Homo sapiens: one gene and its partner. The protein of the gene in region 2 interacts with the protein of the main gene of each other region in a biochemical or structural test. Each region holds a gene or a part of one and is shown on either strand. Other genes may lie near its edges.

The links. Proteins that work in one complex are often made in the same cells at the same time.
Region 1: of the proteins of ZBTB46 (region 2) and DESI1, one has a biochemical effect on the other in vitro, tested with the Homo sapiens proteins (one study listed by BioGRID).

The regions. Positions count from the first base shown.
Region 1 is NC_000022.11:41,611,029-41,618,051, forward strand, and holds part of DESI1 (desumoylating isopeptidase 1), read right to left. Parts: intron 1-7,023. UniProt on the Homo sapiens protein: Protease which deconjugates SUMO1, SUMO2 and SUMO3 from some substrate proteins. Has isopeptidase but not SUMO-processing activity. Desumoylates ZBTB46. Collaborates with UBQLN4 in the export of ubiquitinated proteins from the nucleus to the cytoplasm.
Region 2 is NC_000020.11:63,828,257-63,835,535, forward strand, and holds the start of ZBTB46 (zinc finger and BTB domain-containing protein 46), read right to left. Parts: upstream 3,009-7,279; 5' UTR 2,841-3,008; intron 2,575-2,840; exon of another isoform or gene 2,442-2,574; intron 2,382-2,441; exon of another isoform or gene 2,301-2,381; intron 1-2,300. UniProt on the Homo sapiens protein: Functions as a transcriptional repressor for PRDM1.

The DNA of each region.
Region 1 (7,023 bases), on a different chromosome or scaffold from region 2:
GTGGTAATCCATTTAGGACGAGCATCTTCAAACCCTGGGTTCCACTGGGCTATAAGATACTAAATCTCCTCTTTCCTGTTTACTATATGTAAAATGGGGAGACTAACATTCCTTTTTTTGAGACAGAGTCTCACTCTATTGCCTAGGTTGGAGTGCAGTGGCACGATCTTGGCTCACTGCAACCTCCGCCTCCTGGGCTCAAGCAATTCTGGTGCCTCAGACTCCCAAGTACAGGCTGGGATTACAGGTGTGCGCCACCATGCCCAGCTAATTTCTGTATTTTTAGTAGAGATTGGGTTTCACCATGTTGCCCAGGCTGGTCTCGAACTCCTGACCTCAGGAGATCTGCCCTCCTCAGCCTCCCAAAGTACTGGGATTACAGGTGTGAGCCACTCTATGTGGCCTAACACTGCATTTTAAATAGAGCTGATGTGCCCTTCTGAACTGTCATTTATAAATCAGCTGTTTAAATGGCTGCAATTTGTTTATTTACGTGAAGACATTTAATAGTTCAGTGAAACTGGAGAAATTAAGGATACCTGCTTTCTCTTACCTGTTCCTTCTTTTTTTTTTTTTTTTTTTTTGAGACAGTCTCACTCTGTTGCCCAGGCTGGAGTACGATGGTGTGATCTTGGCTGACTGTAACCTCCGCCTCCCAGGTTCAAGTGATTCTCCTGCCTCAGCCTCCTAAGTAGCTGGGACTACAGGCGCTCACCACCACGCCTGGCTAATTTTTCTATTTTTAGTAGATATGGGGTTTCACCATGTTGGCCAGGCTGGTCTTAAACTCCTGACCTCGTGATCCGCCCGCCTCGGCCTCCCAAAGTGCTGGGATTACAGGCGTGAGCTACCGCGCCTGGCCCCTGTTCCTTTCAAATGAAGCTTTTCTCATTTACTTTGTGAGGAATGCTACGCTTACAAGGAGGAAGTACAATATAGTGAATAAGAACACAGGTTCTGGTGTAGACAGGTTGGGTGTGAATCCTACTGGCTTAAACGGTGAACTAATGGTTTATTGAGTGACTACTACCTTCCAGGCACTATCCTTGGCACTAAGGATACATCAGTAAACAAAAACCTCCTTCATGACACTTACTAGGTGGGGGGAGGGGACAGTCAATAATAATAATGATGATAATAAGTCATAACATGTTAGCAATAGTGAATGGTATAGAACGAACAAGAGTAGGTTAAGGGGGTCTGGGCGTAGTGGCTCACGCCTGTAATCCGAGCGCTTTGGGAGGCAGAGGCGGGCGGATCACCTGAGGTCAGGAGTTCGAGACCAGCCTGGCCAACATGGTGAAACCCCATCTCTACTAAAAGTACAAAAATTAGCCAGGCATGGTGGCACACACCTGTAATTCTAGCTACTCGGGAGGCTGAGACAGAAGAATCACTTGAACCCGGGAGGTGTTGCAGTGAGCTGCGATTGCACCACTGCACTCCAGCCTGGGCGACAAGAACAAAACTCTTGTCTCAAAAAAAGAAAAAAAAAAAAAAGAGTAGGTTAAGGGAGTTTCAGGGATGATCAGGGTGGGCCTCTTTGAGAATGTGATATTTGAGTGAAGATTTTTTTTTTTTTTTTGAGACAGGGTCTTGCTCTGCTACTCAGGGTGGAGTGCAGTAACGCGATCAAAGCTCACTGCAGCCTTGACCTCCCAGGCTCAAGTGATCCTCCCACTTCAGCTTCCCAGTTGCTGAGACTATATGTGTACCACCCAGGCCTACTTTTTTTTTTTTTTTTTTGAGACGGCGTCTCCCTATGTTGTCAAGCCTGGACTTGAACTACTGGGCTCAAGTGATCCTCCCACCTCCAGGCGTGAGCCACCAGGCCCAGCTTTGAGCCAAGATTTAAAGGAGGCAAGGGAAAGAGGGATGCAGGGGCAATGACATGCCAGGTTTATCTGAAGGCCTGTAAGGAGGCCAGTGAAGTTAGAATGGGTGAGGAGGGGAAGTAGAAGATGACCAGAGGTAATGGAGGACCAGATCACAGAGAACACTGCAGAGGCTGAGAACACTAAGCCTGAGCTGTCCAATATGGTGACCACTGACCACATGTGGCTATTTAAGTTAAATAAATGCACAAATTCAGTCCCTCAGTTCCACTAACCACATTTTAGGTATTCAATAGCCACATGTGACTAGTGTTTACTTACTGGACAGTGCAGATCTAGAACATTTCCATCACTGCAGAAAGTTCTATTGGACGCACTGTTTAAACTATAGTTTCCTATTCTGTAAAAAAAAGCATAATAACACTGCCTGCCTCATAACATTTCCAGGATTAAAAGAGACGATACATGACACATGCGTAGCACAGGGTCTGGGACATAATACATGCCCAATAAAGGCTAACTCATTTCTTCTAGGGTTTATAATTTGAAAGTTTTATAGTTGTTCTCATAGTACCCTGGTATTGAAACTATTCACGTGTCCTTCTCCCCAGTTAGACTACAGTTGCCTCAGTAACCAGGACAGTTTCTTATGTATCTTTATAACTCCAGCACCTAGCAAAGGACCTGGTCCTGAGATGTGACATGAACATCTGTTGAGATGAGCTGTTCTGTTTAGTTAGCTTTGTTGGTTGACACACAGTGCTATTGAGGACAAAGTTCCTAACCCCAATCTGGGCTGCCTGGCTTGTTATTGCAATGACTCTGCCACCCTGGCATACTGCACTCCCAGTCTACTGCTGTCTTCTCAGATGCGCATGCTCACTGACTCAGGAGTACAGCTGGCAGGTATGGATGTATCATCAGCTCAAACCCATTCCTACTAAACAGATTTTTGAAGAGGGGCCTCAGTTATTTCACACCTGAAAAACAACTCAAAAGTTGCAGGATACAAACCCTACTTTATTCTCCTTTATATCCTTTGTATCATCACTGAATTTGCCTGTAAGCTACACGCCACACTTCCTATTCAACTGCATCAAGGTACACTTAGGATCTCATCCATTCATAGAGTGGAGATAGGGACTATAGAAAAAAGATCCCCTTATTTATTCATTCTTTCTTTTTTTTTTTAAGACGGAGTCTCGCTCTGTTGTCCAGGCTGGGGTGCAGCGGTGCAATCATGGCTCACTACAACCCCCGCCTCCCGGGTTCAAGCAATTCTCCTGCCTCAGCCTCCCGAGTAGCTGGGATTACAGGAGCTCGCCACCATGCCCGGCTAATTTTTTGTATTTTTAGTAGAGACGGGGTTTCTCCATGCTGGCCAGGCTGGTCTCAAACTCCTGACCTTGTGATCTACCCGCCTCGGTCTCCCAAAGTGCAGGGATTACAGGGGTTAACCACTGCACCCAGCCTGTTCATTCTTTCACTTATTCATTCATCCACCAAACACTTGGAGCCAACAATAACATTAAAAATGAATTGAGTGAATTTACATCCTTTCTTTTTTCCTTTTGAGACAGAGTCTCACTTTGTTTCCCAGGCTGGAGTGCAGTGGCGTGATCTCGGCTCACTGCAACCTCCGTCTCCGGGGTTCAAGTGATTCTTCTGCCTCAGCCTCCCAAGTAGCTGGGATTATAGGTGTGAGCTACTGTGCCCGGCCTACATCCTTTTTTTTTTTTGAGATGGAGTCTCACTCTATCACCCAGGCTGAAGTGCAGTGGCATGATCTCGGCTCACTGCAACCTCTGCCCTCCGAGTTCAAGCGATTCTCCTGCCTCAGCTTCCCGAGTAGCTGGGATTACAGGCATGCGCCACCGTGCCCAGTTAATTTTTGTATTTTTAGTAGAGATGGGGTTTCACTATCTTGGCCAGGCTGGTCTTAAACTCCTGACCTCAGGTGATCCACCCGCCTTGGCCTCCCAGAGTGCTGGGATTACAGGCATAAGCCACCTCACCCCACCTTGTTTTCTTCTTCTTTTTTTTTTTTTTAACAAAAAAGTTCCTTTTCACCTGTTTTCCACATGCATATCTGCAGAAGATTTCATTTCAAGGAAGAGTTTCACAGCTAAAGAGCATTTGAAAACCACTGGTCAGGCCACATGCAGTGGCTCACGCCTGTAATCCCAGCACTTTTGGAGGCTGAGGCGGGCGGATCACGAGGTCAGGAGATCAAGTCCATCCTGGCTAACATGGTGAAACCCCGTCTCTTCTAAAAAAAAATACAGGCCGGGCGCGGTGGCTCAAGCCTGTAATCCCAGCACTTCGGGAGGCCGAGGCGGGAGGATCACGAGGTCAGGAGATCGAGACCATCCCGGCTAACACGGTGAAACCCCGTCTCTACTAAAAATTAAAAAAAAAAAAAAAAAAAAAAAATTAGCCAGGCACGGTGGCGGGCGCCTGTAATCCCAGCTACTCAGCAGGCTGAGGCAGGAGAATGGCATGAACCTGGGAGGCACGCGCCACTGCACTCCAGCCTGGGCACACAACAAGACTCTGTCTCAAAAAAAAAAAGAAAATTTAAAAAAGCAGAATCACGCAGGGCCTTGTAAGCCATATTCCTTTCCATTTTGCCTTAAAGAAATTGAATGATTATTAAATTAATTCATTAGATGAGTATAAAACAGTTCACACAGTGAACAAAAATCAAAAACAAAGCACAATAGATGGCATTAAAACAGAAAAAACCTCTCTCAGATTTGAATAAATTTTACTTAATCTTCAAGCTTAAGTTCAAGTCTCAATCATTTCTATAATCAATACTTACTGAACACCTGCTCCAACAGGCCACTGGGGACATATAGGAAGGGGACAGAGTCCTTGCCCTCCAGGAGCTCCAGGCTCTTGCCAAAGCCTCTCTGACATGCTCAGCTCACCATGGCCTCTCTTATTTCAAAGCCTAACATAGTTCATGCACCACTCACTCACTTTGGCACCTAATCATAATCTGTTTTATATTGTTATCAAATGTTATATGTGTACATTCATTATTTAAAGGAAAATAATATTTTAAGAAAAACTCCTGGGCTGGGCATGGTGACTCATGCCTTACTTTGGGAGGGGGGTTTGTTCAGCATTTTGGGAAGCTAAGGTGGGTGGATCGCCTGAGATCAGGAGTTTGAGACCAGCCTGACCAACATGGTGGAACCCAGTCTCTATTAAAAATAGAAAAATTAGCTGGACATGGTGGCACATGTCTGTAATCCCAGCTCCTTGGGAGGCTGAGGCAGGAGAACTGCCTGAACCCAGGAGGCGGAGGTTGCAGTGAGCCGAGATCGTGTCATTACACTCCAGCCTGGGCAACAAGAGTGAAACTCTGCCTCAAAAAAAGAAAAATTCCTGGAGGACAGAGTTCACGTCATATCTTTTATTTCATTACTATTTGTACTACAAAATGAAGTAAAGAATTGAGTATAGTGTAAAATCTCTAATATTCATTAGAATTCATTCTGCCAAGCAATTTATATATTCTATGTCTCCAAATCTTTAAGTCTGAAAACAGTTTTGAAATGGGCTTGTAAAGAAAAATAAACGTGATGCATGTACACGAAACTTCTGATCAGAAAATAATAAACAAATATGAAGTACTTCTTACCACAATTAAAACACACACACACACACACACACACACACACACACACACACACTTCTGCATGTACTGTGGCACAAAAAGAGGTCAAGAAACTTAAAGAGCAGCCAAAATTATTAAGAGGAGGAACTGAAGGACACTTATAATAGCTAATTATTTTAGGCAATTGGTGACTATGAAAAAAGGTGCAATGAGGCTATCTGCTCAATTAGAATGCTGAAGATAATTTTGGGACCATTTTTCATAGTGAATGAAAAGCTATAGAACAGTAATGCCTTCACTTGAGGCAATTCCAGGAGGCTGAAAACAGGACAGGCTAAAACTACGGAATTTACATTGCTTCAGGAAAGGGGAATTACCTTGGGCTTTATCTAGTCTAATCCTGAACTGCGACAGAGCTAGATGAGGTCTCCCATTGGAGAACTGACATAACTGAAGCCTGAGAGGGTACTGCAGATGAGATCACATGGATTTAATTTGGGAAAATGGAGACTAAGAGGCATGATCATAAATCTAGATTGTAAGTGGCACATACACATTGAACCCAGCTTTTTTTCTCATCCAAACTTGAAACATTTGGCAAAGGATGCCTTTACAAACTTCAGGAAGGCATCTACTTTACTTCAATTTTAAAGGAACGTATTACACAGAGGTGGTATCTCAAAATGACAGAGAACGCGAGCTCTGGAAGTCAGACTGCCTGTGTTCATAACCCAGCTCTACCACCTAGTAGCTCTGGGACCTGGGGCAAATTCCTTAACACTCTACTTCTCAGGTTCTTCAATCAAGAAAATGGAGGCAATAACAGGACTTATCTCACAAAGTTGTGGTGAGGATTATAATGCACGCAAAGTACTCAGAAAAAAAGGGTCTGACACATGGTAAGCTCTCAATAAATAGTGGCTATTAATATACTTCTAGAATTCATCATAAAAATCAGGAAACAAATTGATTTTTTAAAGGTTCAAATGTATTTAGGAATGGGAAATCAATATATGGCTACTTATAGCACTGGGACATACCCAACTTCAAGATTTGTGTTGTCTGAATGGGATGAATCAGTAAGACCATGCCTATTTTCCTTAAGTGTTCAACTCTAGAAAGTAATGACTACTAGCTTTGCTAATTCTTTCTTCATTAATTTTGCAAAAGGTATAAAAGCAATATGGAAAAAAGAGGTAGAGAAGACAGAAGTAGATTAGCACACAAGGTGATTTCCTCAGATCAGAATCTGATGTGCCCAATGAATGGGTGATGTTCCCATGTTTGGCTGAGGCATTCCAGGACTTTACATCTATATAAAAGGGCGGGGAGTGGGAAGGGGGCAGGTCTATTACTCCATCTTCAGTTACAGCACTTTCCCCTTCACCCACTACACTCCACAAAAGCCTTCTTTCAGTTCCAGTATCAGGCCAGACTCTTTCCTGTCTCAGGGCTTTGGCAGGTTGATCTTTCTCCTACCTGGAACACTGTTACTCCCTTACTACCCTCCTGTGGCTACTTCTTCCTCATCCTAAATTCCCACTTTCAAAGTCACTACCC
Region 2 (7,279 bases):
TGGACCCCATGGCCTAAGACCCCAGCACTCCGCACAAGTTCACAGCTACGCCGCAGCCGCGGCAGACGGCAAGAGGACCACAATCAGGATAAGGCGGCGGCCTCTCAAAGCCCTGAATAAGTCTGTGGCCTTAATAGAGATTTTGAATCAAACATTTATTCTTAGGAGTCAGGCCATTCAAGCAAACTTAGCAGCAACAAGATGAATTTTTCCCCCAGGGGAGGGGACAGATTCAAAGGGTATTTTTTTTTTTAAATCTGCTAGAAAAACCAGTAGAGGGAAGTATCAACCATCACTCAAGGTCACTCATGAGACTTCCAGGTAAAACATGCAAAGCCCAGGGAGAAGCAGCAGCCTGAGTTTTTACAAGAACGGTACTTAGGCAAGAACACGAAGTCCCCAGGACAGGGAACCTACCACGGCAGACGCCGTGACACTGGGTGTGCGGATGGGAAGGGGCAAGGACTTCTAGACCTTTCCTCTCACTTTAACTCAGCAGTGGAGCGGGTGCCTGGGCACCAGTCACGGCAGTGGGAGGAACCGGCTCCAGTTCTCAGGCTGTGGAGCCGTCTAGGCACCGTGCACGAAGTGGGTCTCCAGGGCTCTGAGAGGCCGGGCTAAGACCTCTGATGGAGAACAGAGCACTGGAGCTGCACCGCTGTCCCAGAAACACAGGCCACAGGGACAGAGTGGCCCAATTTCCCTTAATTTAAAAACCCCACGTCAGGGCAGTGTTGGAAAGTTCACTCTGCTAAAATTTAATTCAGTGTTTGTAAATAGTACATCGTCTGACAATAACAACTGTGTACCCCCCACGGCATTTCCTCTAAATCCTTGGAGCAGTTTCACCGTTCACAGGGTTTACCTCCTGACCTCTGTGACCACCAGGGGCTGGGGAGGGACGGAGGACGCAGGGCACTGGGTCAGCCTGGCCCTGGTGGAACTGACCTGGGGGCCCTTAGGTAACAGTCCACCCAACCCGAACATCCGAAACAGGAGTGGAACTCAGGTCTGAGCACAGAACGACTCATCCTCACACAAAACAGCTAAACCCGAACAGAAATCACCTCATCTAAGCAAAAGAAAACTCTCACGTTCAGGATAATGCTGTCAGTGAGAGGCTTAATTAAATGCTTGTCCCCAGGCTGGCCTGAAGGCAAGGCGGAATTTCGGATTTCTAAACACCTCAAAGTGAGTGCATTCCACGCCCCAAGGAGAAATCTGACAGTAACTCCCCAGCCCTCTTCCTTCAGTTACGGAGAAGATGTCTAGCTTTTTAGGGGACACAGTAAGTTCCCACCTAAATTTGCAGTAACTTGTGCCCAAGTACTCCCCTCACTCCTCAGTCCTTTCTGCAGTGGTAACCAGGCTGAGGTGCCCAAAAGTGCCAGTTGGAAACACGTAAAACACACCGAGCAGAAAGGTTCTACTCTGATAAATACTGTCGCTTGCTTCATTATTCATGTGAAAAACCCCTTCTATACATTTCCTTTTGATGAACAAACTATTTTCCACTCTTGTAGAGTGAAATAGTGCCTTGCAGAGGCAGCGTGAGTGCCAGCAGCAGAGATGTATCCAGTCTGTTACCCAAACGGGAAGTTAGCTCTGATAATAGAGCCAATATGAAAGATTCTACAATCGATACAATTAAAATGCCCGTGAGTTCTCGGCGCACAGGTGTCTGCGCCCAGGCCGCGCGCTAAACACGTTTCTAATTAGCATTTCTTTAAACAATGCTGATCACAATCTTGCCACCGTAATCCACTCCAAATGCATCGTTGAGATTGCAGCACGGAAAGCGAGAGAGGAAATTCGCTGCGAATCTCAAACTTTCTTTTGTTTATATTTCTTCGCTGTCAGAAAATATCCGTTCTTCGCCCCATCTGGTCTGTACCCTGGCTCCTCGGTCCAGCCCTATTGTGTGTGCTTCGTTAAACCTACAAACAGTGAATCTGTCAGCGGGGCCAGGGGAACCCCAACTAGCAGGAGCCCTCCCTCTGGCGCAGAGAATTCCCCGTTTGCCTTAGGGATTGAGTTGTCAGACACCGGCTCGCGCTCCCCCGCGAAACTGACATGTCTATTTACAGAGAAACAAAGACGCGGCTCGCAGCGGACCCCGCTTCCTCCGCGCGCCCCGTCCGCCCCGCGCGCCCCGAGCCCTCCGCGCCCCGAGCCGCCCCGCCCCGAGGCCCCTGCGCCCCGGTTCGGCCGGCGATTAAGATGGAGACCAGGCCGGCGCCCGGCGTCCGGGGAGACAATGACCCCCCGGCCTCAGGGCGCCGGGACCCGCCCGCGCCCACCTCCCGCAGTTCCGACTCTTGGCAAACTCGGCGCGGGCGGCTCCGGGTGCGGCTGGGCTGTGCCGGCGGGGGGCGCGGGCGGGGGGCGCCAAGACGCCCCCGGGCTGCCTCGGGGCCAGGCGTTGACGCAGCAGAAATTACCAGCTGGAAAATTCCCCTCTCGGAGGTGCCGGGGAGGGAGCGCGGCGGCGGCGGGAGGTGCCGGGGGCCGAGGGGCCGGGGCAGCCCAGCCGCCTCCGCGCTCAGCCCCGCGGGGAACCCGCGCCGCCCCCGCGCGCCCCGCCCCGCGCCGCCGGCCTGGGGGGCACCCGCGGGGGCCGGGCCGGGGTCTCCGCCGCCGCCCCCGGAGCCCGCGCCGCAGCTGGGAGCGCCGATGGCCCCCGGGAGGGCGCCCCCGCGGGGCGGGGCGTGGCGGGGCGGCCGGCGGCGGGGGCGCGCCCGGGCTCGCAGCGGCCCCGGCTCCCGGCTCCCGGCTCCGGGCCCGGCCCCCGCCGCGATGCGCCCGCCCGGCCGCGCGGACAATGAGCCGGCGCCGCTTACCTGTGACCCCATGGGGCGCGGGCGAGGGCGGGCGCCGCGGCCGCCGGGCCGGCGCCGGTGATCGCCGCCGCCGCCGGGAGGGCGCTGCGTCCGGGCGGGTCCGAGCTGCGCGCTCGCCGGGGCTGCTCGGTCCGTCCGTCCGTCCGTCGGTCCGTCAGGCCGGCGCGCGCCCCCGCGCCCGCTCCAACCCCGCGGCCCCCGCCGCCCGCGCGCGCGCGCCCCGCCCGCGGACCCTGACCCCGCCCCCCGGCGCGCGCCCGGCCGCCGCTGATTGGCCCGCGCCGCGCCCCGGCCGCGGCCACCGCCCCGGGCCCCGCCCACGCCGGCCCGGCCGCCGGCCCCGCCCCTCGCTCGGCTCCCGGCGCCGCGCCGCGGGGTCGCAGGGGGCCGCGCCGGGGGTCCGTTCTCCCCCCCGCGGGCAGCCGGACAGCGGAAGTGCGGGCTGGAGCTCGCTGGGCATTGTGGGAAGCCCCCTCCCCTGGGCTGGCGGGGGGCTGGGGCGGCGCGGCGCGGGGGTCCCCCTGGCCCCCGCTGCGCCCTTGCCCCGCGAGCGCGGAGCAGCCTGGAAACACCCCACGGGAGCGGCGACCCCGGCGAGGGCACCCGCTCCCTTCCCGGGCCGCGCACCGGGCGCTGCCCACGCGCAGGTTCCTCGGGGGCGCGCGGGTGCCCAGGTCACCGGCCGTCCCCGCGCCTGACGCGCGGTTGCACTGCGCGCGTCTCGCAAACTTGGCGACTCCCCCAGCCCGGCCGGGCATCAACGCGGGCCGCTCGCGGTGCGGAAAAGGCGCCCCCAAGGAAGGCCGCCCGGGGTGCGGGGTCTGGAAGGGCCTGGGCACCGCGCGCGCCTACCCTCGGGGGCCTCGGCGCACCCGGAGATCGGCGCACCTCGGGCGCAGGCCTCGTGGGGGTGCCCGCCAGTGGGGCTCGCTTTTGGCTGACTAGGGGCACCGGCGGCCGCGCGTGGGTCCCTCCCGTCGTGTTGTCTGCGGGGGACGAATGGCTCCGGGAGGGGGCGGGAACCAGCGGCCCGGGCCTCGCCCCAGCCCGTGTGCAGCCCCGATCCGAACGGCCTGGGACGCGTCTCCACCACTCGGCGCCCGGACTCTGCGCGTCGCTTCTCGCCTCCGCCGTCCTCAGCCCTCGGGCGGGTAGAGTGGGAAGCGCGGCCCCGCATTCCTGGCCGGCCTGCGCAGGGGTAAAGGCCACCTCGCTTCCTCTCCCCGGGCGCGGCGGGAAGGGAGGTGAGCCTGTGGCCGGCAGCCGCGCGAGGGAGTCGAGCCCGGCCCGGCCAACCAATGGGGAGGCGCCCGGGCCGTCCAGCCTGCCTCCCTGCGGGCCCAGCGCAGCGGATTCCTCGGGAGGTGGGAGGCGGCGGCCCTATGGGTGCTTTCAAATCTGGATGTGTGAGGCGCATTCAGGAGCGGCAGTGGGAGGCGGCTGAGGGCTCTCCATGAGTGAGCAAAGGCGAAGCGAGGTGTGGCTGCCGGGACCAACGCCTGGGACACTCCCTTACTGCCGTCGCGGGCGCCTGGAAATGGCTGTGCGGACACCCCGTTCCCATCCCCTCGCCAAGGTCGCCGGGATGGCACTGCGGCCCAGGAAGCCCCGTCGCCGGCCTACCTCGCGCGGCACCCTCTCGGTGGCACTGCCTGCTCTGGTCTGAAACTGTAGCCCCAGCCTCACCGACCTTCGGGAAGTGGGGGCTGAGCACAACCACCCTGAGAAGAGGCGGCTTCCAGGAGGGTCTGGCGGGTCACGTGCATCCCCCTTGGAGAAAACAGCACTGCCTGCAGGAGCCCCCACCTGCCCACCCAGAGCCCAGTTGTACCCCACGGAGGAAAGGAGGCCTGGGGAGACAGGAGAGCTCGGGCCCACCGAGCCAAAGCAAGGAGGACCAGAGCCCTGATGCCTGCCCCAAGGGCCTCCCGCAGAGCCTGCCCATGCTCTCTTGCGCAAAAGAGAACCCCAGTCTCTCCCAAGATGTCTGGACCTCCCTAGACAGCCTCCAAGGAGAGCAGTGTTGATGGTTTGCCATGTCCGTTGTCCATGCAGGGATGGAGAGCAGCAGCAGCTGCCTGGCGGAACACACAGTGGCACTCAGTCATCGCTTAGGAGGCCTGCCCATAAGAACCAAACCTTGATCTCACCACGACCCAGGCCAACCCCACCTGCCAGGTTAGGGCTGCCTGTCTTGGTAGAAACTTGCTGAGGGCCGGGCGCGGTGTCTCACGCCTGTAATCCCAGCACTTTGGGAGGCCGAGGCAGGCGGATCACGAGGTCAGGAGATCGAGACCATCCTGGCTAACACGGTGAAACCCCGTCTCTACTAAAAATACAAAAAATTAGCCAGGCGTGGTGGCAGGTGCCTGTAGTCCCAGCTACTCGGGAGGCTGAGGCAGGAGAATGGCGTCAACCCGGGAGGTGGAGCTTGCAGTGAGCCAAGTTCGTGCCGCTGCACTCCAGCCTGGGCGACAGAGCAAGACTCTGTCTCAAAAAAGAAAAAAAAAGAAACGTGCTGAGTTCTAGAATGAACGGGGCGGATGAGGCTCTGGGCCCCCTCTCACCTGGGAGCCCCACTCCTCCCCGCTTCCCCCTCGGCAACACTGCCAGTGACGGGACAGAGACTCCTGACTTTTCTGCTCCAAGAACCAACAGAAGGTCAAGCAGCCTGGAGACGAAGACAGTATGTCAAAAAGGAAGAACCAAGACCGGTCTCAGAGACAGCGCCCTGATTAAGTCCTACAGACCGTTATTCCAAGAGCTGATAAACCCCATTACTATTTAAAAGAAAAACAAACAAAAACCAGCAGCAGCAGCTGCAGCCTCTCAGCCGAACTGGGAGGACGAGGAGGGTGGAGTAGTTGGACTCCTACAGCCACGTGGAGTGTCTGCTCCGACGGGCATGCTGGCCCCGTGGCCCAGGAACCTCAGGTTTGTTGGAGCCCAGCATCTACTGAGCTGCTGCTGGGATTAGACATGAGACGGGGGGATGCCAGGCTGGGCCGCGGTGCCCCCTCTTCCTAGGGCCCCGGGACACTTGTGCAGGTGACGCACACCAGGCCTGGGGGCCACAGATGCAAGGAGGGATCTGCCGCCTGACAGCCGGCTGGGAGGCAGCTCTGGGAACAGAGAATGTGAAGTGTGGCCTCAGCAGCATTGGGATCAGGGCTGGGAGGCCAGCACATGGGTGTCTGGGAGGGTCCAGAGGGTGGGGCCCCTGAGGGTGACATGATGAACTGGACATGGTCCCTGACCTCGCCAAGTGGGTGAACAAGACAGGTGAACAAAAGGTCAGGTCTCTGTAGGGCACACTTGTCCACGCTGCATTACGTGGTCATTCCTGAAAGTCACCCCCAGCCATCTGGGTGAGCACGTTGGGAGCCTGTCCAAGGGACCCTGAGGCCTATGAGGGATGAGCGGCAGCAGGCCAGGAGTTCTGGAGGACGGGGGGCTCAGGGCAAGGTGCAGAGGCTGGGCAGCCCCACGGATGTACCTGCTGAGGGACGTGCCCCCCACAAACCCCTGGGAAAACTCAACCAGAGACACAAATGGAGAGCCATCTGGCTGGCAGGGCCCCCCGAGGGTCCTGGCACAGCCTCGCGCTTATGGCCTCTCCGCAGACCTGTGTTCACAGACTCCCTGCACCACTTACCCTGCCAGCCGGCCACCTGCCCTCCACCCTCACTGTGTGGCTTCTAGGGGATGGGGATCTGGGAGGGGACCCAGCCCCATTCCAGGTGCTCTGACACCACCAAGAGAGTAGGGATCTGCCTCTCATCCTCAGGAAGGATGGCCTGGGAGGAGCTTTGGGAAAGAAAATTCCCGAGGAACAAGATACCCCTTCCTGTCTGTGTCCCCACCCCCCCCCAAGCAGCTCCCCAACCTCGCCAGGGCCTTTACTGCCACCCCCTCTTCTCCCAAGGAGGCATTTCCTTGTCCACCCCCAGCTGGGATTTCTGTGGTTGTCTTTGTCTCAGTCACTGGTCAGGGAACCTGCCTGTTTATTCACCAGCCAGTGGTGTTGCTCAGTCGTCCCCATGGCAACAGCCCTGGGAGTCCTGCCCCCTCCCAGGGAACTGCCCAGAACCTGTCCCTGCCCTCTCCAGGCCTCTGCTGGGAGCCCAGACAGAGGGAGAGGCAGAGGGCAGGGCGGGGAGAGAGGCCCGCCACCAGCCTGAGGATGCTGGGGCTGTCCAGGGAGCCGCCCACCACACGTCATCCTGGGTCCTGCGGGTGGACTGGAGGCCGGCCGTGGGCTGCAGGAGAGCCCCACCCACGGGCTGGGGGAGGTGGCCTTGTCGAGGCTGGATAGAGGTGGGCCTCCTCTCGGGCTTGGCTTGGCCAGGTCCAGTGCCAGCTGGCCCTGCCCTCCCACCCAGGCCTCCCCAGGACCACCCTCCAGAGCTGCTCTGGGGCCAGGGGCTACCTGCCAACCC